5 linked regions of the Homo sapiens genome follow. The protein of the gene in region 2 purifies or fractionates together with the protein of the main gene of each other region. This does not show direct contact. Each region holds a gene or a part of one and is shown on either strand. Other genes may lie near its edges.

Region 1 (6,826 bases), on a different chromosome or scaffold from region 2:
GATCAATGGAACAGAACAGAGCCCTCAGAAATAACGCCGTATATCTACAACTATCTGATCTTTGACAAACCTGAGAAAAACAAGCAATGGGGAAAGGATTCCCTATTTAATAAATGGTGCTGGGAAAACTGGCTAGCCATATGTAGAAAGCTGAAACTGGATCCCTTCCTTACACCTTATACAAAAATCAATTCAAGATGGATTAAAGACTTAAACGTTAGACCTAAAACCATAAAAACCCTAGAAGAAAACCTAGGCATTACCATTCAGGACATAGGCATGGGCAAGGACTTCATGTCTAAAACACCAAAAGCAATGGCAACAAAAGCCAAAATTGACAAATGGGATCTCATTAAACTAAAGAGCTTCTGCACAGCAAAAGAAACTACCATCAGAGTGAACACGCAACCTACAAAATGGGAGAACATTTTCGCAACCTACTCATCTGACAAAGGGCTAATATCCAGAATCTATCTACAATGAACTCCAACAAATTTACAAGAAAAAAACAAACAACCCCATCAAAAAGTGGGCGAAAGACATCAACCGACACTTCCCAAAAGAAGACATTTATGCAGCCAAAAAACACATGAAACAATGCTCATCATCACTGGCCATCAGAGAAATGCAAGTCAAAACCACAATGAGACACCATCTCACACCAGTTAGAATGGCGATCATTAAAAAGTCAGGAAACAACAGGTGCTGGAGAGGATGTGGAGAAATAGGAACACTTTTACACTGTTGGTGGGACTGTAAACTAGTTCAACCATTGTGGAAGTCAGTGTGGCGATTCCTCAGGGATCTAGAACTGGAAATACCATTTGACCCAGCCATCCCATTACTGGGTATATACCCAAAGGACTATAAATCATGCTGCTATAAAGACACATGCACACGTATGTTTATTGCGGCATTATTCACAATAGCAAAGACTTGGAACCAACCCAAATGTCCAACAATGATAGACTGGATTAAGAAAATGTGGCACATATACACCATGGAATACCATGCAATCATAAAAAATGATGAGTTCATGTCCTTTGTAGGGACATGGATGAAATTGGAAATCATCATTCTCAGTAAACTACCGCAAGAACAAAAAACCAAACACCGCATATTCTCACTCATAGGTGGGAATTGAACAATGAGATCACATGGACACAGGAAGGGGAATATCACACTCTGGGGACTGTTGTGGGGTGCGGGGAGAGAGGAGGGATAGCATCGGGAGATACACCTAATGCTAGATGACGAGTTAGTGGGTGCAGCACACCAGCATGGCACATGTATACATATGTAACTAACCTGCACAATGTGCACATGTACCCTAAAACTTAAAGTATAACAAAAAAATAAAAATAAAAAAAAGAAAAAAAGAAAAAAAAAAAAATTAGTAAAGTTTACCTTTTAATTTTAAGATTCTGATCCTATATATGGTATATATATTATAAATGTTTTTACCAGTTGTCATTTCTAATTTTTTATGGTGTTTTATTTTTTGTAAATTCAGATATATAATAAAAATATTTTCCTTTTCAGTACTTGTTATTTCTGTCATGTTTAGAAAGCCTAGCCCATATCAAGTTTATACAGAATACTTGCCAACATTTTCCTCTACTACATTTATGGTTTCATTTTTGAAATACCAAGTTTCTAAGCTATGTAGAATTCTGATAAAAGGTATAAGAGAGGATTAAAAATACTTTTAAACAAATGGTTTAACAATTATTGGAATGTTCTATTGAATGCTCCATGTTTTGCCAACTAATTTGAAACACACATTAATCATTAACTAAATTCTTATATGCTTGATTCTATTTGAGGTCTATTCCATTTCATTTTATTCTGGCCCCAATACACTATTCAACTAAAATTATTGCAGCTTTAAATTGAGTATCTGCAGGAGCAGGCATCTTCTTCCCAGAGTGTCTTTCAAACACTCTTCCACATTTACATTTCCAGATGCTTTCCAAAAAACAAAACAAACATGTTTAATAATATGCTTATGAAATAAAGAAACAACAAAGTAGAATCTCTTATTACAGAGGGGATTTCCAACTTCTACCACAATATATGCACAAGCATTCAACAGATTTTTGAGACAGTCTCAAAAACTCAAAAACTGGGGTGCAGTGGCATGATCAGAGTTCACTGAAGCCCCAGTCTCCTGGACTCAAGTGGTCCTCCCACCTTGGCCTCCCAAAGTAAATAGATTTGTTTCAAACTTACTGCAGTTGCCACTCGAATATTTCCTGATAGGGGTCGTATCCCAGAAGGAGGCCTTCCTGTTAACCCAACTCCACCTCTTGAAACAGGGCGAGCTGCTGAAGATTTGTGATTGCTGGCCATTGTTTCTTCACTTTAATCGCTGTTTGGAAACAATAAATAGTTCAATCCTTTGATGTCTTCTCTAGCAAGACAATAATGACCCATCATACCCTTACATTTAATTCACAACAATTGTTCTTGCAAACTGCCGTTCTGTGTACCACTACAAGGCTAATTTTGTTCAAATATGACATCGTGCTCCATTTACAACTATGAGATTGTTTCTTGCAACATTCCTTCCTCATCTTTCTATTATCTTACCAAAATGCAAGCCCCTCTATTATCTATTTCTTTAGTATTCTCATCCCATACTCTGGTAAATTTTCTCTCCCATCATAGCCAACATCTTTCTTTGCCCCTAATCCTTTCTCTGCACTTTCTGGTCCATGATTAACTCTTATATTCTGAATCTTGTTACAAATACTTTCTATTTTCTTAACTTTAACAGAATCTTGATTTCCCCTGAGAGTAACACTTTCGGTAGTCCAAGTGTTTTAGCTTCCTGTCCCACAATTTTAAAGAAAAGGAGGTGGCACTTTTCTTGCTCCTCAGGGTCACTTTCAAAACATTCTTCCACACCTTTAAAAAAATTAACAAGAGGCCAGGCGCAGTGGCAAACGCGTGTAACCCCAGCACTTTGGGAGGCCAAGGCAGGTGGATCATGAGGTCAGCAGATGGAGACCATCCTGGCTAACACAGGGAAACCCCGTCTCTACTAAAAATACAAAAAATTAGCTGGGCGTGGTGGCGGGTGCCTGTAGTACCAGCTACTCAGGAGGCCGAGGCAGGAGAACGGCATGAACCTGGGAAGCAGAGTTTGCAGTGAGCCGAGATTGCGCTACTGCACTCCAGCCTGGGCGACACAGCGAGACTCCATCCCCCCACCCAAAAAAAAAAAAAAAAAACAAGATTCACTTCTTCTGAGGATCTGGGAATGCAACAATATTGCCTTGATCTTTCCTGGTTGCTGGTAATTAGTGACTTCCTAATCTCTCCTCTATCTTTACTAAAGTCTTTTGTACCTAGTTCACAGCTTCTCTATTCCAATCTCACCATCACCCTGGATGACTTCCATCTAGATACTAGATCCAATACCTAACACTCCAGCTTCACAGTTCCCTGACCTCAACTTTAGCAATGATCTTAACTCCATTTCAGTAATTTATAGCCATGGCGAGACATGGAGCTTGTCATCATCTGGAATTGCTTCACCTCAAACATCTTAATTGAAATACTCTATTCTCTGGTCTTCTCCTCTCCTACCCTTTTCTCATCTTCATTCTGCTACACCTGCCTTTAAACCATTTCCTTAATTCACTCATTCTCTCCCAGTTTATCAGCCCTCTCCTTTATTCATCAGAATATAACATTATTTAAAATTCTGTCTCATAATTTAGAGTAGTAGTTTTCAAATTGTTGGTCACATCCGTTAGTAAGTTCTGAAAACAATTTTGTAGGTTATGACCAAGATACTTAAACGTGAAATAAAATTTAAACAAAAAGAGCTCACTGAAAATATGAAGGGTAAACATTGTTTCAGTAAATTTTTGTTTCAGCTATATTTACATAAATTTACACATATGTGTTTACTGGGCTACAATATAAAAATGTATGTCCTATTGTAGGTCATATAAAATAGTTATGAAGATACTTATCTAGACAAAGAATATGGAGAAAAAGAGAATAGTGCCCAAGATTCTGTCCTGAGGAACATCAATACATACAGATTACACACAAGAGGAAAATCTAGTATGAGAGACTGAAAATTAAGGCCCAGAAAGCAAAGAAAAAAACCAGGAGTGTGTGTCAGAGACGCCAAGAGAAGGCAGGAATCTGAGCCATGCCATTTACGTTGGAAATTCAAGTAAGATGAAAACTGAAATGTCCAATGGAGTCCCCATTCAAGAAGTCACTAGTGATACCTTGACAAGGGTGTTTAAGAACTCTCCTCCTTCTCTCAAGAAATTAGTGTCTCATGAGCACTATCAACTAATTTGTATCCTTGAACTATTCTCCAGCCCATCTGGCAAAATCAGAAACCCTTCTCTACATCCAATCTGAAGTGCTGAACATTGCTGATGGAAATCATACAACTGTACAGACTGGGGTACTGCAAAGTGATAGTCACAAATCTTAGCTGGACCCTCATTTCAGAAATGATTTATCCTTGTTAAGATACTTCTCTACTTGATGATTCTCACCCTTAACTACTTTTCTATTTAACCTCTGTTCCTGCCACTCTCAGCAGATGACTCATTTAAAAAAATTACAACTTGAACTCCATCACCTTTGGGGCACATAAACTTCTCTACATCCATCCTGCCCTCCAGTCTCAACAGCCATTCCTTCTCTCATTCAAGATCAATCTTACTCTGATTTACCCTTGATCCCATCTTTTTTGTGGCATTAACCTCACTGCTACCAATTATCTTTAAACTTTCTCCTTTCCTTCAGTCTGTTACCATGTTCAATTCTTTCCTACCTTCAAAAACTTATTTCTTGATCCTGCAACCACCTCTATCTAACTGTCCCATACATCCTTCCCTTATGCAGCCAAATTCCTAAGAATAGCTTATATCCAGCCGGGCGCGGTGGCTCATGCCTGCAATCCCAGCACTTTGGGAGGCCGAGGCGGGCGGATCACGAAGTCAGGAGATCGAGACCATCCTGGCTAACACGGTGAAACCCTGTCTCTACTAAAAAATACAAAAAATTAGCCGGGTGTGGTGGCGAGTGTCTGTAGTCCCAGCCAATCGGGAGGCTGAGGCAGGAGAATGGCGTGAACCCGGAAGGCAGAGCTTGCAGTGAGCTGAGATCGTGCCACTGCACTCCAGCCTGGGCGACAGAGCGAGACTCCGTCTCAAAACAACAACAACAACAACAACAACAACAACAACAAAAAGAATAGCTTATATCCACTATTTTCTACTGCTTCATTTCCCAGTATCTCCTGGATTGCTACCGTTTGATTCAAATGACCCCTGCCAATATTGCCAGTGCTGTAAATGTCATCCTACTTTACTGGTGTCCACATTTATATGAAACATCTCCATGACACTTCCCTCTCTTCTGGTTCTTTTTTCTGTCTCCTTGATCTGTCCTTATATAGAGCATTTTCTAAGATACCATCCACCATCTTTTTCTTTTCTCTCTCTAAACTCCCCTTGGGCCCCCTTATCCACACTCAGGGTTTTAACAATTAATAAACTGATTCCACACAACTTCCTTATTTTAGCACTCAGCTTGCGGTGTTTATATCCAAATAATAACATCTCCACTTAGATGTCTAAATATTTCAAAATAAACATATGTAATCCAAACTCATTATCATCTGCTCAAAATTTGTCCTTCCTCTTGGTGTCACCTCCTAGTCACACAAGTAAGAAATTTAGTCCTTGACATCTTCCTCTCCCTTACTCCCATGGCTGGTCACATAGTTCTACTGAGTTTGTTTTGTTTAGTTCTACTGATTTTGTTCCTAAGTGTTTAACAGGTACTTTACTCTCTATTCCTACAGCACTGGCCAATTCAGGGCATCACTGACTCAGGTGGACTATTATACCAGCCTCTTAAGTGGTCCCCTTGCCTAACACACATTTTGCCTATTACTTTCTCTGGGAATCCTTCCATGACCAGTCCATAACTGGTCTTGGAATCTTCGTCTTCTTCAATTTCAGTGTATAGGCCTGTTCTACATGCTACCATGCATCCTGTGTATTACTTTATTCCAGAACCTATCACACCACTTGAAATGATCTGCTTAAGTATTTCTCACCCTTTATGGCAAGAGCTGAATCTTAATCATCTTTATATCCCCAAAATCTGTCTCAGTGATAAGCAAAAACTTTGTTCTCTCTTGTATCTTTTAAATTTCCTCGTACATAAAGGTATTGCCAATTACAAAAATTTACTAAATTGTTAAAAAGCAAACAAAGCGACCGGGAGCGGTGGCTCACGCCTGTAATCCCAGAACTTTGGGAGGCCGAGGCGGGTGGATCACGAGATCAGGAGATGGAGACCATCCTGGCTAACATAGTGAAACCCTATCTCTACTAAAAATACAAAAAAAAAATTATCCGGGCGTGGTGGCGGGCGTAGTCCCAGGAGGCGGAGCTTGCAGTGAGCCGAGATCGCGCCACTGCACTCCAGCCTGGGCGACTGAGCAAGACTCCGTCTCAAAAAAAAAAAAGGCAAACAAAGCGTGTGTTGGACTAAAATGATTTCTCTGTTTCTACACTCTATGTCCAGTACTACTTTTCTGACTTTTCTTAGCATTACTCGTAATCAGTCCTTGGACTGCTTCTATCCTTTCTACAGTCATGCATCTTTATAACTCCAACTATGTGTACGGCTCACTAATCAATGTCTACAGTTCTGCCCTTTCAACTGGGCACCAATTTTGAGTTTTCAATTGTTTATCTGAAATTTCCATTCAGATATCTCATTTGAATATGTTCACATCAATCTTCCTGACCCCACTAGCTCCCTGATTCTA
Region 2 (5,432 bases):
TATGTATCAATTTATAAAAAGCAAAAGGGCCGGGTGCCGTGGCTCACGTCTGTAATCCCAGCACTTCAGGAAGCCAAGGCGGGTGGATCACGAGGTCAGGAGATCAAGACCATCCTGGCTAACACAGTGAAATTCTGTCTCTGCTAAAAATACAAAAAATTAGCTGGGCGTGGTGGCATGCAGCTACTCAGGAGGCTCAGGCAAGAGAATCGCTTGAACCCGGGAGGCAGAGGTTGCAGTGAGCCGAGTCTGAGCCACTGCACTCCAGCCTAGGTGACAGAGTTGAGACTCTGTCTCAAAAAAAAAAAAAAAAAAGTGAAAGTATTTGACAAAATCTAACATCCATTTCTGATTTAAAAACATGAAAAACCAAAAATTTCTCAGCAAATTTGAAACAGAAGGGAACTTCCTCAACCTGATAAGGGCATTTACAAAAAACCCCACAAAAAAACCCCTAAATCTAATAGCACACTTAACGGTGAAGGATTGAATTATTTCTCTCTAAAATCATGAATAACACAAAGATGTTCACTGTCACCACTTCTAGTCAACATTGCACTCAAGGTTATAACTAGTGCAGTAAGGTAAAAAGAATAAAAAAGGATTAAAAAAGAAGTAAAACTACCTTTATTTGCAGATGACGATTGTGTAAATGTACCCAGAATTTTCTTTTTATTGTCAATTATTCCCCAAATTCATCCAGTGATACAACATAATTCCAAACAAAATCACAGCAGACTTTAATGTAGAAACTGAAAAGGTGATTCTAAAATTCATATGGAAATGCAAATGTCTTCAAATAGCCAAAACAACTTTGAATAAGAACAAAGTGGTATGGCTAACACTACACAATTTCAAGGCTTACTATAAAGCTACAGTAATTAAGACAGTGTGAAAATGACATGATGATAACAGATCAACTGAACAGAAAAAAAGAGTCCAGAAATAGATCCACTTACACGTGAACAGAGATACGAAGACAATTCAATTGAAGACAGGTCAGTCTTTTCAACAAATGGTGCTGGCACAACTGGATAGCTTTTTTTTTTTTTAAAGAATTTGAATCTATAATCATGAACCATATACAAAAACTAACTCAAAATGGGACCTTTTACCTAAATGTAAAACCCAAAGCTATAAAACTGCTAGAAGAAAACATGAGAGAAAATATTTGTGACCTTAGGTGAGGCAATGGTTTCTTAGATAAGACACTAAAATCCCAATCTATAAAAGAACAAACTGACAAATTGGACATGTTCAAAATGTAAAACGTCTGCTCTTTGAAACACAGGGTTAAAGAGCATGAAAAGGTAAGCCACGGGGCATTCCTGTAGGCTATTGAGGACTTCATCAACAGGCTACACTAAATTTACTGTTAAAATGTTTCTTTCTTCAACAATAAATTAACCTTACCTTACTGTAACTTTTTTACTTTATAAACTTTTTAATCTCTAACGTTTTACCTCTTTTGTAATAACACTAAGCTGAAAATACAACACACCATACAGCTGTACAAAAATATTTTCCTTCTTTATATCCTCATTCTATAAGCTTTTTCCAATTAAAAAATTTTTGTTGGTAAACTTTCTTGTTAAAACCTAAGACACAAACACACACATTAGCCTAGGCCTACACAGGGTTGGGATCATCAATGTCACTGTCTTCCATCTCCACATCTTGCCCCACTGGAAGGTCTTCAGGGGAAATATTAATAACATACATGAACCTGTCATTTCCTGTGATGATAATGCCTTCTTCTGGATAATTCTTGAAGGACTTGCCTGAGGCTGTTTTACAGTTAACATTCTTTTTAGAAGTATAAGCAGTATACTCTAAAATAACAATAACAAGTATACTATAGTAAATACATAAACCAGTAACAAAGTCGTTTTATGATCGTTTATAAATATTATGTGATGTATGCAATGGTATGTGCTACATTGTTGTGTAACTGGCAGCCCAGGTTTGTTGTTTATACTGGCATCACCACAAACACAACGTCACTGGGCAAGAGAAACTTTTCAGGTCCATTATAATCTTATGGGACTACCATCATATATATAATAAATCACATGACTGTGTATGAATATACAAACATACACTCTCAAAACGCAGTAAGAAAGCAAATAATCCATTACAAATGGGAAAACTATATGGATGGTCACTTAGCAAAAAAAAGACATATGGATGGCAAATAAGCATATGAAAAGATGCCCTACACCACTAGTCATAAGGGAAATGCAAATTTAAGCCACAGTAAGATACCACTTAACATCTATTGGAATTGCCAAAATTTAAAAGACAGACCATAGCAAATGCTGACAAGAATGTGGAGGAAATAGAACTCTCACACACTGCTCATAGGTATGTAGAACTGTAGGTACAAGCACTTTGGAAAACAGTTGGGGCAGCTTCTTAAAAAGTAAAACACATACCTACATCTGATCCAGCCATTCCACTGGCAAGTAAATGGCTTGCCACCCAAGAGAAAAGAAACCACATGTTCATTCAAAGACTTGCATAAGAATATTAAAAACAACTTTATTTAATAGCCTCAAATTGGAAACCCACATTTCCATCACCAGGTGAATAAATGAACTATGGAATACTGCAAAATGGACACTTAGTACTCAGCAATAAAAAGAATGAACTATTGATATATACAACATGGACAAATCTCAAAAGAGAGTACTGCATGATTTATGATATACTGACATAAATTTCTAGATAATGCAAACTCATCTGTGACTACTTGGAAAAGAAAAGAAGGAAGGGATTACGAAAGGGCACCACAAAACTTATGGGGGTGATAAATTCATTATCTTGAACTTATGGTGACAGTTTCAGGGTGTGTACATATATCAACACACATCAAAGTTTACACTTCAAATATATATAGTGTGTAATACGTCGACTGTACCTCAATAAAACTGTTTTAAAAATCACTGTCATTCTGCTTCAGCTGGAAGTGAAAGACACACAGCAACCAAACTGTCAGTAAAAAAACAAAAAAAATGTACAAGACATACGGTTATTCTCTTGTAAATTTCCATATCATCTATGCTTGTCATACTAACTCATTTTGTAAGGTGAATTTTGTTTTGTTAGTCTGGCAGGTTTTATGTAGTTGCTATAAAGTATAATGAATGACTAGAGGAGTTAAAAATAATTGTTACTTTATGTCAGAATAAATATGCTATAAACTATTAAGGTATTCTCCATTCATTTATTCAATGTTTCTAGTCAGTTACTTATAGAACAGTGGGCCAAGAAAAATATGTTTTAAAAACATAAGAGCTCCACAAAACTCCTATGATTCACATCAATTGTCAGATTCAGTTCTATTTTATCATTTTGTCCTTATTGTCCCATCCATGCCCTGTATACATCCCTATCACAGCATTTAAAATACTTTATTAAACTTTCTAGTTTATATGTTTATTTCTTATAATGGTCTTAGTTTTTTCAGGTAGAAGGCATGTTTGATTAATTTCTATATCCTCAGCTCCTAGTACAGCACCTAGCATATACACCATCTTAAAGTTCCACTAAGGGACTTAAAGGAAGATCTGAATAAATAATGTAACATTGTTCATGGATGTCAAGATGTCAATTTGACTCCAATTAATCTATAAATCCAAAACAATTCATTTTTTTAAAATCCTATGAAAATTGTATAAAGTCTGTGGTCTAGTTAATAGTACTGCACCAATGTCAATGTCCTAATTTTGTCCTCATTTTGATTACACTACAGTTATAAAACAGGTCAACATTAGGGGAAGCTGAGTGGACGATTCTAAAACCTCTATGTGCAATTTTTGCAACTGCCTTTGAGTCTTCAATTATTATTAAAGACTTTTAAAAATCCCATGAACATAGCAAGTTTTCCAAAATTGCATGGAAACATAAAGGTCGAAACATAGTTGTCAACTTTAAAAAAAAAAAAAAAAAACGAAAGCGGGGCAACTAGCACTATCCGATTTTTGGACACATCACAAAGCCACAGAAGGAAAGAGAATATGATGATGACAAAAGAGCAGATTAATGAACCAATGGATTATGACAGAGAGCTCAGAAACAGACCCGTATATATAGGATAACTTGACATAAACCAGCCAAGGTTGGGTTGTCACGTGATGGGATTAAGAAAACTGGCTTGCTCTATGGAGAAAAATAGGTTCTTATCACACTTGAAACAAAGATAGAATCCAAATTAAAGACCTAAAAATGAACAGTAAAACTATGAAGCTATTATGGAAGAAAATGTAGGAGAACATCCTGGTGATTTGGGGACAGGGAAGGAGTTCTTAAGACAAGCCACACACCATAAAGCAAAACATTGGCAAGTTCTGCATTAAAAGTAAAGATTTCTGTTCAACAAAGGGCACCACAGAAAAAAACAACAGATGGGTGACACACTAGAAAACATTCGTAATGCCTAAATGGAGAATGAACACCCACAGAGTATACAAGGTACCCATGCAAATCAACATGAGAAGGACAATAAACCCAATGTTTAAAAGTAGACCACAGAAATTAGGCAATTCACAAAAAGGAAAAAAAAAAATTTTAAGTATACTGCTCACAAGCATATACAAAGATAATTAAACACTAATAATTAATGAAATTCAAATTAAAACAAAGCAATAACTATTTCACAATCTTCAGACTGGAAAAATTAGAAAGACAATACCAAATGTTGGTAAGAAAGTGGAGACGAGGTACCCTCTCCTGCACCATCATGGGAAGGCAATGTGCAATTGTCATCCTGGAAAGCAATTAGTTTGTGAAATGAGATACGCACCTACTTTATGGCGCCATCCCATCCTAGGGGCAGTCTCAGAGCAATTATGGCACAAGACTATATAAAGGGACATGAATGAGTATGTTTACCAGAGTTGTTTGTGATAGCAGGGAGTTGGAAGTTACCTAAAAGGTCTGTTAAGGAAGCTCTTTTAGATACTTTGGAATCCTATGCTGTCAGAAGCAGTGAAATGGTTGTACACACAGCAATATGAAGAGATCTTGAAACAGTATTGTGTCACCATATTAAGAAGCAGAACAAGATCTACAACATAATCCCAGTTAGGCAAATTAAACTCACACATGCATGTGTGCGCACACCCATACACAATAGTGCTATCTATTTTATAGCAACAACTAACGTGGTTGCCTACAGGGATTGTGGATGAGGCAGGAAACGGGAGTGAAAATTAGGGAGGAAGAAAATCAACAACAGAGGAAACCTTTTAAGGAATCAATCATGAAAATGATGAGTCATCAACTGAGTAGTAGTAACTCAATTTTCTGAGGTCCATTAAAAAAAAAACCAGGTATAACTGTAAAACTTGTATACAACCTTGCATGTTGAAAGGATCAAATAAAATGATGTAAGCGATATATATGAAAGTATTCCACAGACTTGTGAAGCA
Region 3 (6,826 bases), about 130 Mb from region 2:
CCGCCAAGATTGGTGTTTGTGAACTTGAATTTTAATTAAAGGAAACTGGGTTAAGTGCTCCAGCCGCCGTGCTTGTACTTACACTGCAGCTCCCATCCCCGGCACCGGGCTCTCTCTGCTCCCATTCTCTCTCTAATGGGCCCTTGGAGGCCCCCGGCTGCTGAGAATTACCCCAGCTTGCAGGCAGAGGGACCAAGGCCCGGAGGGGTTGCAGGGCTGAGTGGTGGGGATGGCGGTGGAACCCGACAGAAGGGCTGCTCCATCCCCAGTACCACCAGGTCTGTTGGCTCCTCGTGGGTGGCTTTGATGGATATGCTGCTGTCCCCCTGTACCTGCCCCATCCAGCCAGACAAGCGAGCCCCACCTTCATGCATGCTGCGGGCCTGGGTCTAGGGGGCACCCCACCCTGGCCCAGACCAGCTGGAAAAGGGTCTCCTGCGGCTGTGGATGGGTTGGGGGGCTCAGGTACTCCACAGCAGAGAGGGCTGTGTAGCTGCAGGGCCATGGGGACCAGTGTGGGATGGGGAGCGTAGAGCAGGGGCACAGCCCTGTGCCAGGCCTGAGCTGCCCGTCCTCGCCTCCCACTTGACTGGTCCCTTTGCTGCCTGCGCACCCATGGCTGCCCAAAAATGTCTTGCCCAGATTTGCTGGGGGTGTGGTATCCACCTCAGGGGTCATGGCAGCTTGAGCAGAGCGTGAGCTCATGTGGAATCAAGCTCAATTTGCCAGGCCCTGAGCCCCCCACCTTGGGGGCTGCTTGCCCGAGGGTCCGCAGGGCTGTGGGTGTGGCTGGCAGCTGCAGGGAGGTGCCTCTGGAGTGCAGCTCAGGCCCCTCTTGTCTTACTCTGCCCCTTGGCTTCCTGGAGGCTGTGGAGTATTTGGCAGGAGTGGGGGCTGCCAGGGCTCAGGGTCTGTCGGCCTAGGTCTCTTCCTCTAGCCAGGGTCATCAGCTCAGCTAACTCCAGGGGCTGTCGCGGCCTCTTCAGCCCTTGGACTTGAGGCAACATCAGCATTTCCCTCAAACAGCCTGGCCCGGGGTCTGTGAGGCTGTCCCCATGCCCTCTCAGTGCAGGGCTCTCTGAGCTGTGGATGAAGGGGAGGCAGGACAGGGTGGAGGAGGAGAAGAGGCAGGGTAGCCTGCTGACCCTATGGTGTCTGTGGTCCTGACGGCCAGGGTGGTATGTGCTGGGGCCGGTTGGTAGAAATAGCCCCAGCCTTGAAGCCGACTCAAGGGAGCCTCAGCCCAGGTGCCAAGGGCCAGGTGTGCTTCTCACCAACACGCAGACACCTTGCAGCCCCTCTGCCCTGCAGCCCCAGGGACCCTTACCCTGCAGCACACAGCCAGGTGGTCAGGGCCCAGGGGTGGTTATATCCACGGGGAGGTGTGCACTGGAGGACGACGCTGCCCTCTCACCGTGGCTTCTAGGGGCGCATGAGTTCCCAGCCTCGTGGGTGGGGTCGGGGGCGCCACCTCCTGGGACTCCTTGTCAGTGTTCCCTGATGACGGCCAAAATGTCCCTGAGGTGGGGGTTGGGGGCCAGAGGGGGACAGAGGTCTCTTGGCAGCTGGGCCAATGGCCCGTGGTCACCCAGCTGGAGTGTGTACCCACCGCAAGTGCTGCTCCCTGTCCCCCTTGGGAGGCCAGGCCTGGGCTCGGCCCCTGGCACTGACCATCAGAGCTGTAGTCTGTCCTGGGGCCAGGTTTGACGGGCATTTCCTGTCTCTGCAGGTCCCTGGTGCTGAACCGCCTGCGTCCAGTTGCCAGCGGGGGTGGGAAAGCCCAACCGGGCTCCCCTTGGTGGCGGAGCAAAGGCTACCGCTGCATCGGAGGGGTCCTCTACAAAGTATCTGCCAACAAGCTCTCCAAGACCTCCGGCCAGCCCAGTGATGCGGGCAGCAGGCCCCTCCTGCGCACAGGTGAGAGGTGAGGGCGGGGGCGCTGGGAGATGACACCGACCGGCTAGCGTGTGGTGGGCATTGCAGGCCAGACCCCCTAACCTCCAACATGCTGTGGCTGCTCTGGGCCTTGGCTCACGCCCCTGTCTTGGGGAGGAGGTCAGGGGCCTCATGCTCCCAGGGAGCCAGTCCAAACAAGCACTTCCCAAATGGGTCACGTCCCATCCTGGGAGTTAATTTCACTCTTCCATACACCCGGCGCCTTCGTAGCCATCCCTAGTGAGACCAACAGGGCAGCCGGAGAATGGAGGGTGCCAGGAGGCCTTCCTCTGCCATCCCCCAGGAAGGGCCCTGGAGTGGCGCCCACCTCGCGTGGCTGAGCGGCCCCTGATTTTCTGTGGGGTGGGGGAGAGTTGCTCACAAGCACCATGTTTCGCTTTTGGAAAAAGGATGATGCCAGGTACGGCAAACACGCCCGGGCGAGCGCACACCTGGGGCCGCGGCGCCCGTAATCGCATTGGCGACGCCTCGACAACTGTGTCTGGAGGCAGCCGGCGCCGCCACCTTGCGCCCTCCCAGCCCAGGGAAACAGGCTCAGGAGAAGGAAATGCTTTGGATTCACTTATCCTACAAATTAACTAGAAAAATATTTTGGTTTCAGTCCAATTTTACCCCCTTTCTTGTCCATCAAAAAAAAAGAGGGAGATTGCAGGTGGTGTTGGGATTGCAGAGGCTGGGCCATGCTGGCTCCCCGACCCGCCTGGGACCTAGAGAGAGAACAGGTTCAGCCCCTGGAGGAGGTAGACTCCGACGGCAGGGTCTGCGGGGGTCAGAGGAGAGGCAGGAAGCGTACCTCCCTGGAAGCCAGCCTCACTGGCCGCCCTGCCTGGCTGTGTTCCTAGCATCCATCTCTGGGCTCCAGGGGCTTCTGGGCTGTTTCCTGGGCAGAGTCGCTGGGAGCAGCACGGGGGCCCTGGCACCTGCCCCACAGGGCTCTGAGCCACACTGTGGCTGGTCAGTGCCCATGACCATGCCTGTAGCCTGGTGGCTGGGGCTGGGGGGTCCTGGTGAACTGGGCAGGAATAAATCCCCACTCGCTGAGGATCTGGTGAGAAGCCCTGGGTCCCTTCCTCGGCACTGTGTCACCCCTGTGTGTGCCTCCCACTCACTGAGGATCTGGTGAGAAGCCCTGGGTCCCTTCCTGGGCACTGTGTCACCCCTGTGTGTGCCTCCGCTTCCCCACCCGTACCTTGAGGGACTGGGCTGTGTGATTTGTGCGTGTGGTCTCATCTCTGCTACACCCCGGGTGCTCAGTGCAGGAGCTGGCTCAGAACATGGGGGCCTTGGTGAGGCTTTGCCCCTGGGGGATGCTGCCGTGGGTTGGGGGATAGGCCTTCCTGTCACCCAGCAGGGCCTTCTCTGGTTACCTCTGATCCTCGGACTCTGGAGCTTGGTGGCCTGTGGGGCTACACACAGCTGTTTGTATCGTGGAGGGGAGGGGCCTCGGGCTTCTCTCCAGCAGTCATTTCCCTGAGTGAAGTATAAGCCCCTGGCCAGTCTCTGGCACAGCAGGTCCCAGGCGCCTGTGGCCGTCCACCAGCCACCAGCCATGTGAGCCAACAGGGACCCTGACCAGTGGAGCTCCCGGGGCCAGCAGCAGGTGCTCTGAGGACATCGTGCTTGACCCCCAGGGACAAAGCCATGAGGTGCCTCTCTGCTCATGCCGGGTGGTCCCACCTTCCCCTGGGCCTCCTTGGCAGAGGCCAAGCCCCACGTTGGCTGGCACTGTCCTGAGTGCACTGACACTGCAGGCACAGTCCTGGCACTGGCTTTCCTCTCTGGTCCTAGAGGCAGTGGGCAGAGCAGCCAGGCTGATCCCTCTGCCCAGGGAAGGGCACCCCGAGCCCTCACCTGCCTGCCTGGGTGGGAGGGTGCCCTGCATCTCCCATGGATGCTGCCTCTGACGTCCCTAGTGCAGGGAGAGGCGTGGGCTGAACACCAGTGAAGATTCCTGGGGCCCACAGGTGTAAATACGCAGACTCGTGTCCAGTCAGGTGGTCAGGGAGGCCTTTCTCATGAGCTGAAAACTGAGAGGGCCCAGAAGGGACAGAAGCAGCAAGAGCATCCTGAGGCCGCCATGCAGAGGCCTGGGCAGGAGTGGGAGGGGGCGTGAGGCATCGCAGGACCCTGTGCACAGCCAGCAGGGGGAGGAGATGGGTTGGGGGCAGGCGGGGTCTACCTGGCACCACTGCACCCACATTCAGAAAGCTCCCGGTAGTCACGATAGTAGTACTGACTGAGGTTGATAATTAAGTGGCCAAGACAGCAGCCATGGAGACCATGATGTCCTGACGTACGCGAGAGCCCCAGGCGGCCAGGATAGGCAGCAGAGGCTGCTCCTGGCAGTCAGTCTGCAGGCCCTGCCCTGCTCTGCGGAAGCTGGAGCCAGGGAGGGGATGCCTACTGCCCTTTCCAGAGCCAGAGCCCATCCCAGGGAGGACCCACCCACTCAGGGAGTGGCCCCCACTGCAGCAGCTGCATCCCACTCCCTGCACAGGGCCAAGGCTGGCCCCGCCTGTTCACCCAGGTCGCGGTGCGTCCTTGGGATTCTCCCTGCACCGTGCACCCGCGGGACCCACGGAGGGGCTTGTGGCATGGGTCCGTCTCCCCGCACCGGGGCCCTTGGGTCGTCTCAGCCCTCGCCGGGATCCTGTGGCCCACGTTTGTTGGGCTGGGTGGGCCTGTGTGGGGAGGTGCACCTGCCATCCCAGCTCTCCCATCCCTCAGTGTCCACAGAGACGCCTGTGGCAGGCAGCAGGTTTGCACTTGGCCCCCTCAGACACGGTGCCCACCACCCGGATGGCCCAGGGTCTGAGCTTTGGGGAGGAGGGAGTGCATAGCCCTGGCCCGCTCAGCAGTGGGGAGGAGAGGGAGGGGCTGCACACTCCTCCCTGGGAGGCTGTGGTGCTGCTGTGTCTCCCCGTCGGTGCCAAGTGCTGAGCTCCGCAGAATCTCGCCTTGCCATTTACACACATGGCAGAGCCCTGGCGGGCGCAGAGCCCCTGACGTCACCACACTGTGAACAGTCTATCCCGGCCACCCTTGCTGACTGGCCTCTGCCTCCGTTGGCCCTTCCCTTGGCCCAGAGCCATCAGAGAGCCAGTCTGGTTCCCCCAGCCCTTCTGGGGCATGTCTCACCCCTGCACCAGCAGCAACCCAGAACTCCTTCATTCAGCCTCAGCAACGCCAGCAAGGAGGGTCTGGCGCACAGAGGCTGGTGCCAGCCAGGGCAGGCAGGGGTCCAGGGGCCTCCTTGCTCCCACCCCTGCCCCTGGGGAGGCCCGCCTGCCATCGAGTAGGGCTATGGCCTCCGGTGTCCCGCTGGCCAGCCTTGGTGGCGACTGTGGCAGTCCTGGGGCTGTGCAGAGCCCAGTGAGGCCGCACTCGCCCTTTGGGTCGACAGGCGAGGCCACAGCTCCAGCTGCCTGGGCCACCACCGGCCCCGCCTCGCCATGAGGAAGGTAGATGGCTCCCAGCTGTGGGATACCGCTGACCAGCCCACTTAAGAGGAATAATAATTAAAGAAATAAATTTCCTCCCCTGGTGTCAGCAGAAATTTGACTTCAACAAGAAAGTGCAGCAGCCTTCTTGGAAGGGGTGGGGGTGGCTGTCCTGGCTGACCCCCTGGGCTCTGGGCCCCTGACGGCAGAGGACAGTATGGCTTCTACCCCCAGCTTCCCCAGTCCCTGAAGCCGAGCCCTCCCTCCTGGGCCCGCCTGCCACCTGAAGGCCTGAGCTCCAGGGTCCCTCCCCACAGAATCCTGTGTGGGCCCCCAGTGAGCATGGCCCATATGTGGCCACCATGAGCCTGATGGCTCCTGTGGTGGGGCAGAGGCCCCAGTCTCTGGCCACAGGGCTGGCCTTGGCTTGTTCTGTGTCCCCAAAGCCCCCAGCCACCTGTGGCCGTGGCCCTCCCTGCTGTGGGCCAGCTGCTGCGTGTTCCTGGCACGTCCGGCCTCTGCGCCTCCCCTGCTGGTCACCTGCCCACCCTCCCTGGGGTGACGAAGGCCCTGTCGGCTTGCCCCCGCCCCACACTGCCTCTTCTGGGGCACCCTCTGCCGCTGGCTGCCTTCTCCCAAGGGCACAGCCTCCATGTGCCAGACGGACGTGCCCTGGAGGGCCTGGTGGGCGCGCTGTGAGCAGACCAGGGCTTGGCGCAGCCCTGCCTAACTTCTTGGGAGAGTGCTGGCCTGGGAATTGGGGCTGCCTGCGTGCCCCGGTCATCGTGGATGTTGTCCCTTGGGCCAGGCAGCAGCTGTCCAGTGGGTGCTGGCCGGAGCAGGGCCTGGAGGTGCTGAGGAACCTCTGACTGCAAGGCCCCCACCCCGCTTGCCTTGCAGAGCCTGACATCCAGCGGTGCCCAGAGCTGGCACTGGGGCACCGAGCAGGGGGTGGGGCTGGTGGGAGCCGAGTCTATTCTGAGAAGATCCCGGGGAAGTGAAAGTTCTCTGGAATGCATGGCGCCTTCTGCTGTGGAGCTGCTGGGGGTTATTCAGTTGAACTTTTTAGCACTTCTCAGGCAGCCCTTGCTTCTTTTCCAGCCAGCTATTTTATGTGCATTTTTTAACACTGCAAAGCATTTGAAAAAGTGCCTCCTGTTCTTGTCAGAACTCCTGCCGTGAGCCTCACACTGGCATTTTTTTAAAGAGCACAAAGTGGAAAGGGAGGTAACCCCTCCTGCTGCACCCGGTCCTGCCAGGCGGGCACGTGATGCCAGTGTGTCCCTGCCTGGAGCAGATGGCGTCGCAGTGTCACTGGCAGCCTGGGCGAGAGACTGGGAACCAGCAGTGCCGACAGACCGCCGCATTGCCGCGTCCCTCACCCCACAGGCTGGCAGGTGTGAGGGCGTGCCCGTGCCGTCTGGACTGGG
Region 4 (6,826 bases), on a different chromosome or scaffold from region 2:
TTTTATGAATTGGAGTGGATGTTTAAACTGTTACAACTCTACCTTTCCTCTTCCACTGTGTGACTCTTATTTTTCAGGCTAGGACGCCGGGTGGTCTTGTGGGCCACAAGCAGTAGCATGTTTTTGTTTGGAATAGCAGCGGCGTTTGCAGTTGATTATTACACCTTCATGGCTGCTCGCTTTTTTCTTGCCATGGTGAGTTGTGTTTTTTACTTCTTTAATTCTGCTGCAGTTTTTCATAGGAAACCTTAACTCTCATCATTTTGCTCATTTAAGATCTAGTGAGCGAGATCAAGGACTCATCTTTGTCCACTCCACTGCAGAAGTCTGCCTACAGAATACCAATGCCTTATGTTTAGAATGGAACTCATTAAAGTGAAAAATTGTTGCTGGCTAGGCAGAAGTGTGTTTGCCTCTGTGTCGGGCATGTGGTCCACATGTCACAATTACTGAGGCATTATTTTCTTTCTGAGTAATCATATTGGTCTAGTCAGGGCCTGTTCACATGAGCAAACAGACAGTTGAGGTGTGTGGTTAAAGTCACTTGTATAATGTACAGGAAGAATGAAAACAGGAGGGCATTAGGTCCTTATGTTACCAGGAACGGCAGTTTAGTGGAAAGGGCACGAGTTTGAATACCAGCATTGTCATATATTGGCTTGTTAGTTGTATGATCAGTATCCTCTTTGAACCTTTGGTTGCAGTCTGTAAACTGTAGAAAAGAATCTGTGTTTATTATTATTATTCTCAGGATTCAGTGAGATTAAGTATAAACAACCGCAGTACAGCACCTGATTACAATGGTAACTTACTAGAAATGGACTAGCGAGCAAGGAGGCTGTTTCCATGCTCAGTGAGGCTTCCAGATAGATTTCCAACTATCAAGCAACATCAAGAATAATAGAGGGAAGTTTCCATCTGGAGGAGGAGCTTGTGATCTTGCTAAATGCAGAGCAGCAGGTTGGATGGTCTGAGGGTCTGGAGAGAAGCAAAGGGCTTCAATCTCTCTGCACCCCCTCAGAGAACAAGATGGGGTGTCAGTTTTGGAGTCTTTTTTGATGGATAGAAAGGGTTTCTAGCAAACCATACAGTTGGCCAAGGATAAGGAAGATGCATAAAAATAAATCTAGGAGACTGGAAGGTGTTGTACCTCATTAAAAAGTAAATATATATATTTAGGAATGTAAAGAGTTTTAAATACAAGATAGCAACCAGTAGTTCTGTTTCCACTGAGGACATAACTCTGTGACTGTAGAGTGAGATTTCACGAGAGAAACCTTCTGGTGGGACTGAAGGCTCCACAAAGGCACAGGTACTAAGAAAGTATAAACATCATCTTTTGGAAGACTTAAGAGGATATTTCTGAAAATATCTGTTTCAGTCTTGCAAAATACCACGCGTTGGCTTCTATACCCAAGGAAACAAGGCCACACCCATAGAATACATCCGTGAAATGTGGCCTTAATTTTCTGTGACTGTTTCCGTTGATGTTCATGGGGAATGGATTTGTGGGGGAATTCTGTGGATGGGAGATGCAGGCAGATTCATTTACTCAACACATTTATTGATCTGTCTACAGAGTGTAATGCTAAGTAAACCAGACCCAGCTGTCTCAGTAAGTCTAGTAGGAAAGGCAAGACGTTGATCAGCCATCTTCAAAAATAAATAAAATGTTGACAGTGAGGGCATAACATCAGTGGGTCTGGAGCGTTCACCAGGGTCTGGAGGGTCAAGGGTTTTCTCACTGTGAGGGATGGGTGAGAGAAGAATATTCCAGCAAAGATAGAAGTGGATGAAAGGGCCCTGAGATGAGAAAGAAAAGCCGGAATGTCTGGAGAATAGAGAGGAGGAGAGACGCATTGATGAGGCTGAAGGGATCAAGGCGGTTAGGTGGGGCTTTGTAGGATTGTCAGGATTTTGCTCTATCTCCTAAAGGCAATGGCAATCCACAAAAGGGATTCCAGGAATTCTGGCTGCTATGAGGGGGTGGATTCCGAGAAGATGTGAGTATTATTATCAGTGGAAGGGATGGGTGTGAGTGGATTCACAGAGTGTTTTGGAGTTAGTTGTATATGGATTTTCTGAATCCAATAACAGAGGAAGTTGTAGCTGACTCATGAGAAATAATTAGCATTGAAAAACCTGACAGGGACAAATATTACAGCTTAATTTAACTGGGAAATTTATAGTATTTGAAAGTTATCACAATCTTTGTTAATGTAACAGCAGCGCTTACCAAAAGCGACTTCTGGATTGTTAGATGTAGGGTCCCGATGATCTGAGTCTTGCCATTACAAAGTTGCACAGGGAAATAAAAGCTGTTGTCACAAAAATATTAAACTGATTATGAATACAGTAGTCCTCATCAAGCACCTCCCTGCCTCCTGCTAGTGTCAACCCTTTCTGACAGCAGGAATATCCTTGTAGGCCGGCCTCTTTGTGACTGTCCAATGCAAGGAGAAATTGCAGTTATTACAAGGGACACATGTTTACAAAAAGTCTTTAAAAGCAGTGAGGGAACAGGGGAACACTGCCTGAATCCTGCCCACAACCTTTGGCCAGTGGGGATCTGGCAGAGAGACCTGTTAACTTTTGAAGAAATTAACATCTGCAAGGATAATCACATAATGAGCCTTTGAAAGAGTATGATTCAAATATCTAATGATTAAGAGAAGCCTTTGGGGAGTGGTGCTCTCGAATAATTTTACAAAAGTTAATTGTATGATTTGTGTTGTAGAAGTCAAATATGAAAAAATTTTGTAGAAAAAATTCTTCCCCTCCTCCTCCCAAAAAACCCATCAATGGACTCATTCTTTGTTTATTTCAAGAATGGTCACATATTATATTCTAATCACATATTGTAATCTAATTTTTATTAAAGATAGTCATATTTCCAAAATAAAGTTTTTCCCCAGTTTTCCTTCTTGTGGTAAAGTACATATAACACAAAATTTACCATCCTAACCATTTTTAAGTGTACAGTTGAGTGATATTAAGTGCATTCATACTGTGGTGCAATTATCACCACTGTGCATCTTCAGAACTCGTTTTCATCTTGCAAAACTGAAACTCTGTCCATTGAATAATAACTCTCTGTTCCCTGTCTCCCTAGCCCCTGACAACCACCATTCTACATCCTGTCTCTATGAGTTTGGCCACTCTAGGTACCTCATGAAAGCGGAATCATATGATAGTTGTCTTTTTGTGACTGGCTTATTTCCCTTAGCATAATATTCATTGTATGCATAGACTACATTTTTCTTATCTATTCATCTATGGACGGACCCTTGGGGGGTTGCTTCCATGCTTTAGCTGTTGTGAATAATGCTATGAGCAGGCATGTGCAAACATCTCTTCCAGACCCCACTTTCAATTCCTTTGGGTATATACTCAAAGGTGGAATTGCTGGATCATGCTGTAATTGTTTTTTGAGGAATCGTCATACTGTTTTTCCTAGAGGCTGTGCCATTATACATTTCTCTCACATATTACACATGGGTTCCAGTTTCTCTACATTCCCGCCAAAACTTGTTATTTTTTTTTTTAATTAGCCACACTAATGTGTATGAGGGGGTATCTCTTTGTAGCATTGAATTGCATTTCTCAATGATTGGTAAAAATTTGTATTTCTTCTGTTTGAAATGTCTGTTCAAAGCCTTTGCCCATTTTTGAATTGGATTGTCTGTGTTTTTGCTGTTGTTGGATTTTAGGAGTTCTCCATAAAATCCCTTATCAGATATTTGATTTGCAAATATTTTATCCAGTTCTGCAGGTTGCCTTTTCCCTCCATTGATAGTGTTCTTTGATGCACAGTTTTAATTTTCATGAAGTCTAATTTGTCTTCTTTGCCTGTCAAAATAGAATTTTAATTAAATCAGTTTTTCTTACCACTAGTTAGCGTAAATTTTTTTGTCTCCATTTAGCAGTTAGGATTTAACAATAAGGACCTCCTGGATACAGATAACTTGATGTATGCATTTACAAGGAATGGAGAAATACATCCACAGTATAATGAAATATTTAGATGACACAAAAGACAATGTCTAACATTTATATCATAAATAATCTCTCAAGTTTTGCCATTTGGGGTGGGGAGGATGAGGGAAGATGAAAGGACCTATAAGAAAAAAAGATAGATCGGATTGAATGTCATTTTATACATCTGATAGGGGTTTCAGAAAGCAAGTCTTTGTCATTTTCTTTTTTGCCTATATGTGATTTGCAATGGGGTCAGACTCCTCAATAGTTATAAATGTGACCTTGAATATAAATCCCTATTATTTGTTTTTCAGGTTGCAAGTGGCTATCTTGTGGTGGGGTTTGTCTATGTGATGGAATTCATTGGCATGAAGTCTCGGACATGGGCGTCTGTCCATTTGCATTCCTTTTTTGCAGTTGGAACCCTGCTGGTGGCTTTGACAGGATACTTGGTCAGGACCTGGTGGCTTTACCAGATGATCCTCTCCACAGTGACTGTCCCCTTTATCCTGTGCTGTTGGGTGCTCCCAGAGACACCTTTTTGGCTTCTCTCAGAGGGACGATATGAAGAAGCACAAAAAATAGTTGACATCATGGCCAAGTGGAACAGGGCAAGCTCCTGTAAACTGTCAGAACTTTTATCACTGGACCTACAAGGTCCTGTTAGTAATAGCCCCACTGAAGTTCAGAAGCACAACCTATCATATCTGTTTTATAACTGGAGCATTACGAAAAGGACACTTACCGTTTGGCTAATCTGGTTCACTGGAAGTTTGGGATTCTACTCGTTTTCCTTGAATTCTGTTAACTTAGGAGGCAATGAATACTTAAACCTCTTCCTCCTGGGTAAGTAGTTACAGTATATTTAAATTTGGCAGTGAAGTGAGATTTCTACCATTTGTGTGTGTGTGTCTGTTTCTGTGTGAATTTGAGAAAAAGAATGTTTTTAATAGGCCCTTTAAAACCAGGAACAATACTGCCAACCATATTATTATGATATCTCTTAGTGTTATGTTGTAACACATGTACATATGAGGGGACTTCAACCAGTTCATGGAAAAATGGCATTAAAAGACAAAAATTTAAAACATAAACTTTCTCAACATGATTGCCATCAAGGTCAAGACACTTTTGTACGACATCAGCCATTTATTCCATCCTTAAAAAACTGAGGGTCCTGAGAATGTACCCATGTCAATGCAGTCTTATTTACACTATTAACTGAAGAAAAATGGGTGCCGCGTACAGACTTTTTAAGATTAGGAAACAGAAAGAAGTCAGAATGAGCCACCATGAGAACTGTTAAGGTGGCTGCCTAGTGATTTCCCATCAAAACTCTTGCAAAATTGCCCTTGTTTGATGAGAGGAATGAGCATGCCCATTGTCATGGAGGAGAAGGACTCTCTGGTGATGTTTCCCAGGCATTTTTCTACAAAAGCTTTGGTTAACTCTCTCAAAACACTCTCCTCATAAGCAGATATTTTCATTCTTTGGCCCTCCAGAAAGCTAACAAGCAAAATGCCTTGAGCATCCCCAACAAACGTTGCCATGACCTTTGCTTTCGACTGGTCCACTTTTGCTTTGACAGGACCATGGCCCCCCTTGGTAACCATTGCTTTGGTTGGGCTTTGTCTTCAGGATCAGACTCGTAAAACCGTGTTTCATCTCCTGTTACAATTCTCCAAAGAAATCCTTCAGGATCTTGATCCCACTTGTTTAAAATTTCCATGGGAAGTTCTGCCCTTCTCTGCAGCTGATCTGGGCACAACTGTTTTGGCACCCATTGAGTGGAAAGTTTGCTCAACTTTAATTTTTCAGTCAGAATTCTGTAAGCCAGACTAATTGAGATATCTATGGTATTGGCTATTGCTTCTGCTGTTAATCTCAGTCTTTGTCAATTAGGGCATAAACAAGATGTATTTTTTTCCTCAATGTGGATGCTCTGCCACTGTGGTCTTCATCTTCAATATCGTCTTGTCCTTTCTTAAAATAAGTTATCCATTTGTAAACTGCTGATTTATTTGGGGCTTTGTGCCCGTAAACTTTTCATAAAGCATCAATGATTTCACCATTCTTCCACCCAAGCTTCACCATAAATTTGATGTTTGTTCTTGCTTCAATTTCAGCAGAATTCATGTTGCTCTAGTGGGAGCTCTTTTCAAACTGATATCTTATTCTTCTTAGTGCCTCAAACTAGCTCCTCTTCAGACACGTTCTAAGAAGTTAGTACAAATTTCTTTTAGTGCAGAAAAAATCTGAAAACACATGCATAGTTTTTTCATAATATGCACTTTCCATTAACTTTTTTTTTTGGAAAAGGAGTCTTGCTCTGTTGCCCAGGTTGGAGTGCAGTGGTGTGATCTCAGCTCACTGCAATATCCGCCTCCTGGGTTCAAGCGATTCTCCTGTTTCAGCCTCCTGAATAAATGATATTACGGGCACATGCCACCATGCCCAGCTAATTTTTATATTTTAGTAGAGACAGGGTTTCACCATGTTGGCCAGGCTGGTCTCGAACTCCTGACCTCAGGTGATCCACCCGCCTTGGCCTCCCAGAGTGCTGGGATTACAGGCATGAGCCACAGCACCCCGCCGTCCATGACCTTTTTGAAAACTCCTTGTATTTTCCATTTGAAAAAAATGCATCAGAAGAATTTAGTCTCTCCCTTTCTGCCTTCTCTCCTTGCTCACCTTCTTCACACCCATCCCCAGCCCAGAGCTCCTCCCAGGGGTAACTTCTATAATGTTTGGGTTGTGCCCTTTCAGATCTATTCCTATGCATTTGTGCCAGACATTGTGGCATGTGCCTGTAGTCCCAGCTACTCGGGAGGCTGAGGAGGGAGGATTA
Region 5 (5,605 bases), on a different chromosome or scaffold from region 2:
GTCAGGAAACAACAGGTGCTGGAGAGGATGTGGAGAAATAGGAACACTTTTACACTGTTGGTGGGACTGTAAACTAGTTCAACCATTGTGGAAGTCAGTGTGGCGATTCCTCAGGGATCTAGAACTAGAAATACCATTTGACCCAGCCATCCCATTACTGGGTATATACCCAAAGGATTATAAATCATGCTGCTATAAAGACACATGCACACGTATATTTATTGCGGCACTATTCACAATAGCAAAGACTTGGAACCAAGCCAAATGTCCAACAATGATAGACTGGATTAAGAAAATGTGGCACGTATACACCATGGAATACTATGCAACCATAAAAAATGAGAGTTCATGCCCTTTGTAGGGACATGGATGAAGCTGGAAACCATGATTCTCAGCAAACTATCATAAGGACAAAAAACCAAACACCGCATGTTCTCACTGATAAGTGGGAATTGAGCAATGAGAACACATGGACACAGGAAGGGGAACATCACACACTGGGGCCTGTTGTGGGGTCGGGGGAGGGGGGAGGGATAGCATTAGGAGATATACCTAATGTTAAATGATGAGTTAATGGGTGCAGCACACCAACATGGCACATGTATACATATGTAACTAACCAGCACATTGTGCACATGTACCCTAAAACTTAAAGTATAAAAGAAAAAAAAGGGAGTTTCCCTGCACAAGCTCTCTTGTCTGCCACCATGTGAAACATGCCTTTCACCTTCCAATAAACCTCTTTCTTTTGTAAATTGCCCAGTCTCAGGTATGTCTTTATCAGCAGTGTGAAAACAGACTAATACAGCAGCCCCCTGGGATTTAGGAAGTATTAACATAAACTTCAAATATTTTCTTTCTTTTTTTTGAGATGGAGTATCGCTCTGTTGCCCAGGCTGGAGTGCAGTGGTGTGATCTCGGTTCACTGCAAGCTCTGCCTCCCAGGTTCATGCCATTCTCTGCCTCAGCCTCCCGAGTAGCTGGGACTACAGGCGCCTGCCACCACTCCCGGCTAAGTTTGTTTTTCTATTTTTAGTAGAGACGGGGTTTCACCGTGTTAGCCAGGATGGTCTCAATCTCCTGACCTCGTGATCCAGCCGCCTTGGCCTCCCGAAGTGCTGGGATTACAGGGATGAGCCACTGCACCCAGCCAACAGATATTTCTAGCTCAGAGTTCTCTTCCCAAGTCTCTGATGTTCTTGTTTCTATGCCACCCAAGAGGATGGACAATTGGAAGAGACAAATCCAGCCACAGACAGTGCAACTTCACTCAGGGCCAGTGGAGCTCAGGACCTGCTTAGCATTTAGTGCACCTGGGGACCAGGTAGGAGCCATCCACAAGTGGTGATCAGAGCTATTCTGGCAGAGAGGGGAAAGAAGCAAGCAAGGGGGAACTGGCAGGGGTGGGGGGCTGGCCATACATGGAGATACACACTAGCAAGTGGTTAGGCAGCAGCATCGAGGGGCATGGCAGCAAGTACAGGGCTGGGGTTCAGGGACAACTGTCCAGTCCTTGAGTGATGGGAGCTAGCCCTGGAGGCTCCTGGACACAAGGGCAAAAGGCCCTGACCACAGAGCTGGAATCCTCTAAGCCTCCGCACATCCTTAACACTGGGTAGCAAGTGCTTCCGAAATGTGGCTGAAGGTGCAGGGAGCCAGGCAGGTCAGTGGACATCAGCTCTATCCCCTTCAGATACTCAGGCAGGCTCGGGAACACGTGGGCCACATCTGGCTCGGGTCATTTAGTGAAACACAACAGATGCTTCTGCCGGTTTGAAAATTTGCAACTGGCTGGCTCCACATAGCTAACAGCTGGCACTTCCCCACCCCTCCGCCTTCTGCTATGGCCATCCTCATGCATGGCTGTTCTCTCCCTGAAAACCACAGCCTCCTTAAGGTGTGCATTCTTCTGGTATTCCTCAAGGGCTCAGCACTGTACAAACCAGAAATCCAAATTTGCTAAGTAGTAACACATTTTCAAAAATATCAACAGGAACTTTTGATGCTTTAGTTGATATTTTGACTATGAAAATGAGGAATTCTAAAACACAAGAGAAAATAACATTTGATTGTAATTCTGAACTGCATTGGATTTTTATCTATTTATGTTATCCATTTATGATGTGTTTTGAGTGTTTTGCTCTATGTCCTAGATGTTATTTCATTTCTAAAAATGAAAATCATTCATAGGAAACATACAACAGGGATCCTGGTCTGGGTTTTCAACCATTTCTTTTCCAAATCTTCTAATTCAGGTTACAGCAGTGGTTCTCAATGGGAGGCGCTTTTACACGCCCCTCACCCCCGCAGTGGACATTTGGCAATGTCTGGTGATGTTTTTGTGTGTCATGACCGGGAGTGGGGTCTACTGGCAATGAGTTGGTAGAGTTCAGTGTTGCTGCTCAACATCCCACGGTGCAGGGGACAGCCACCCCAGCCACCAAGAACGACCCAGCTCCAGACGACCGTCGTGCTGAGGCTGAGAAACGCTAGGTTGCAGGGATGAAAGAAGCCAGCAACCAATTTCCATTCGTTACATCTGCAAAAAAAGTTTTATTTTACTAAATAAATTTAAAAATCGTGTTCTAGCTTCCTCTGGATTAGGAAGTGTGTGTAACATTGGTTTGCTGTTTCCAAAAGAATTGGTGGGAGAGGTAGAGACTGAAGGCTTGACTTCCTCAGAGCCACTGATAGGGAAAACGCCATCTTCTCAGGGCTGTGAGACACCTGGGAATCGATGCCTTGCAGCCCTGTTCTACCAGCTGGGAGACTTCTGCCAGTTCACCTTCCTGGACCCTGGGTCCCTCATCTGTAATGTGGATTTGATAACAGCATCTACCTCATAGAATTTCCGTGCAAATGAAATGAGTGAAAATATGTGAAAATTGCATGAGTGAAAAATACCTAAAAGCGTCAGCATGCTGCCGGCCGTGTCTGCGTGATGTGTGAGTGTTTGCTGCTGGTGTTATTCACGCATGACATAGACATTTTCCCAGTTAAACATGCTTGTATTCAGATGTTGTGGAAGAAACCTTAAGGATGAGACAAGGAACTGAATATCTCCCTTTTGCCGGTGGGCCCAGCATGGTCAGCACAGGGTCCCTGAGGGGCTTCGTCCAGCTTCCTTCCTCTTTCCTGTTCATACGGTGCCCGGGTGTGCAGTGTGGGTCTCCCAGTGGTGCCCACCTGCCAGCACATTTTGCTCACCTGTCCGACCCGTGGTTTCCTACTTGCCAGTGTTGGCCCCCAGCCCCCTATAACTTGTCTGCTTCCCAATGGGCAGTGGCAAATATCCTCTGCACAAGGAGATACAAAAATCTTGTGTATTTTAATAGAGATTTCATCTCTTTCTTAATGCAACGCAGCTGTGTATATCCTAGATCCATACAGTTCTGGGGGATGGACACTGGTGACCCCTAGCATTATGCTGGGAGTGTTTTCTTGATTATATACCCTGAACTCACAACCCTCACTCCAGCATTCTCCATGTGTTAAGACTAGATATGGTTTTGGATGATACTGACTCAGTTTCCACTTGCTAACGTCCCGAAAAGCTGACTGGCTTCACCAGCCATACTTGAAATACAACATATATGAACAGTCACTAAAAATCAGCAGGTAGCTAAACGTTTTTACTTTTGTCCTTGATGATATTGCCATCGTCTCTACTGTTACCTCCTCCTTCACTTCACTTTTTAAGTGCACTCATTCTGTGAAAACACCTTTTTTTTTAAATAGGGAAAGAAAAATGAATTGACTTGATATTCTTAAAAAATAAAAAGATGACCCAAAATATACAGAACCATTAATATGAAATTAAAGATCTTCTTTCTCAGTGGAAAAAAATTAGAACCACATTGCTGAAGTCTCTCAACATTTCATTTTTAATTTTTCTAATAGTACATTCTTTAAAAGAAGTTAACGACTTCAATTCCAAATATAAGGATTAAATAATGCAATGAAAAGCTGTCATTTTCAGTGAAGCTATTGCCTAATTACCCTGGAAAAAAGTATTCTTATGACTGAACTGATGCAAAAATCCCTTAGAAAAGCTTCATTTGTTGCCTGTAAAGAGTCTTCTTAAGGTCACTTTTACTTCTAGACTGCCCCCTTGTTTCCAGTGAAAGAGTTTTGCTTGGTAATGGCTTGTGGTTCCACAGTGTTTTGTGTATGAAAAGCGTAGACTAAGAGATACTACTGAAGTCGCTCAAATTGTAGATTCTGCCATGAAAGGAAGTCCCAACACTGTAACATTTCCCCTTAATCTTCAGCAAGACACATGAAAAAAAAAAAAAACTCAAGTCCCAACTGAATCTTTACTTTGATCATCACTTCCAGCGGCATTCAGAGGCTGCTGTGCGGTCAGACACAGAGCTCCCTCGAGGCCCCTGTGTGCTTATGAAGTACCTGCAGGTTCTGAGCGTCGGCGCCAGCCCGGGCCAGGGGTCTGCAGACAGAGGCACCTGGTGGCTGCTGGGGCTCCCTGGGGTGAGCCATGGCACGGGAGCCCCTAAGCGCCAAGCTCGCCACGGTCTTCGTCTCTCGGAAGGCAGGGGAAGAAGCAGCGCTCCCAGATAGGACAGAGAAAAGCCTATGAAACAATGCTCTCCAGTCACCAACCAGTTGCCTGATCAGAGCTGGAATTTACTGCTGGGACAAGAGTGCACTCCGATTTGCTTTCATTTTTTCCAGACGCTTCACTAAGTGGCCGTTGCTCACCTCGAGCTCTTCTGTTTTATCCAATGCAGAGCGGAGCTGGGAACGGAGGAAAGGCAGTGAGCTTTAAGGAACTTGTTTCCTCCAAACATAACAGGGTTCTGTGTTACCGAAATTCCAATCCTACTGAAAAATAAAATGATAACTTGGCCCCTGGTCCCTCATGATGCCCTTCCTCCTCTGAAACAACTGGACTCCAGAGAGGGAACACCCTTGGGGATCCTGATGGTTTTCTTTTTTTTTTCTTGAGATGGAATCTCGCTCAGTCGCCCAGGCTGGAGTGCAGTGGCGTGATCTCGGCTCACTGCAAGCTCCGCCTCACGGGTTCAAGCGATTCCCCTGCCTCAGCCTCCCGGGACTACAGGTGTGCGCCACCACCCTCAGTTAATTTTTTGTATTTTAGTAGAGACGGGGTTTTGCCATGTTGGCCAGGATGGTCTCGATCTCCTGACCTCGTGATCTGTCCGCCTTGGCCTCCCAAAGTGCTGGGATTACAGGCATGAGCCACCACGCTCGGCCTCTTTTTTTGTTTGTTTTTTTTTTTGAGACAAAGTCTCGCTCTGTCACCCAGGCCAGAGTATAACGGTGTGATCTTGGCTCACTGCAACCTCCGCCTTCTGGGTTCAAACAATTCTCTTGTCTCAGCCTCCTGAGTAGCTGAGACTACAGGTGCACACCACCACACCTGGCTAATTTTTTGTATTTTATTAGAGATGGGGTTTCACCATGTTGGTCAGGCTGGTCTTGAACTCCTGACCTCAGGTGATCTACCCACCTCGGCCTCCCAAAGTGCTGGGATTACAGGCGTGAGCCACACGCCCAGTGGGGATCCTGATGGTTTCACAAAAGGTAAGTGAGGCATGAGGTAAACAAACACAAACAACAAGAG

The links.
Region 1: the proteins of MTMR9 (region 2) and IFT74 purify together in Homo sapiens (co-immunoprecipitation; one large-scale study listed by IntAct). This does not show direct contact.
Region 3: the proteins of MTMR9 (region 2) and ZC3H3 purify together in Homo sapiens (affinity purification with mass spectrometry; one large-scale study listed by BioGRID and IntAct). This does not show direct contact.
Region 4: the proteins of MTMR9 (region 2) and SLC22A16 purify together in Homo sapiens (co-immunoprecipitation; one large-scale study listed by IntAct). This does not show direct contact.
Region 5: the proteins of MTMR9 (region 2) and LRRFIP1 purify together in Homo sapiens (co-immunoprecipitation; one large-scale study listed by IntAct). This does not show direct contact.

The regions. Positions count from the first base shown.
Region 1 is NC_000009.12:26,957,494-26,964,319, reverse strand, and holds part of IFT74 (intraflagellar transport protein 74 homolog), read right to left. Parts: intron 2,372-6,826; 5' UTR 2,353-2,371; coding exon 2,233-2,352; intron 1-2,232. UniProt on the Homo sapiens protein: Component of the intraflagellar transport (IFT) complex B: together with IFT81, forms a tubulin-binding module that specifically mediates transport of tubulin within the cilium. Binds beta-tubulin via its basic region. Required for ciliogenesis.
Region 2 is NC_000008.11:11,289,384-11,294,815, reverse strand, and holds part of MTMR9 (myotubularin-related protein 9), read right to left. Parts: intron 1-5,432. UniProt on the Homo sapiens protein: Acts as an adapter for myotubularin-related phosphatases. Increases lipid phosphatase MTMR6 catalytic activity, specifically towards phosphatidylinositol 3,5-bisphosphate and MTMR6 binding affinity for phosphorylated phosphatidylinositols.
Region 3 is NC_000008.11:143,470,489-143,477,314, reverse strand, and holds part of ZC3H3 (zinc finger CCCH domain-containing protein 3), read left to right. Parts: exon of another isoform or gene 1-1,706; intron 1,707-1,729; coding exon 1,730-1,917; intron 1,918-6,826. UniProt on the Homo sapiens protein: Required for the export of polyadenylated mRNAs from the nucleus. Enhances ACVR1B-induced SMAD-dependent transcription. Binds to single-stranded DNA but not to double-stranded DNA in vitro. Involved in RNA cleavage.
Region 4 is NC_000006.12:110,440,242-110,447,067, reverse strand, and holds part of SLC22A16 (solute carrier family 22 member 16), read left to right. Parts: intron 1-77; coding exon 78-195; intron 196-4,292; coding exon 4,293-4,824; intron 4,825-6,774; exon of another isoform or gene 6,775-6,826. UniProt on the Homo sapiens protein: Facilitative organic cation transporter that mediates the transport of carnitine as well as the polyamine spermidine. Mediates the partially Na(+)-dependent bidirectional transport of carnitine.
Region 5 is NC_000002.12:237,778,572-237,784,176, reverse strand, and holds the end of LRRFIP1 (leucine-rich repeat flightless-interacting protein 1), read right to left. Parts: intron 4,756-5,605; coding exon 4,645-4,755; 3' UTR 2,534-4,644; downstream 1-2,533.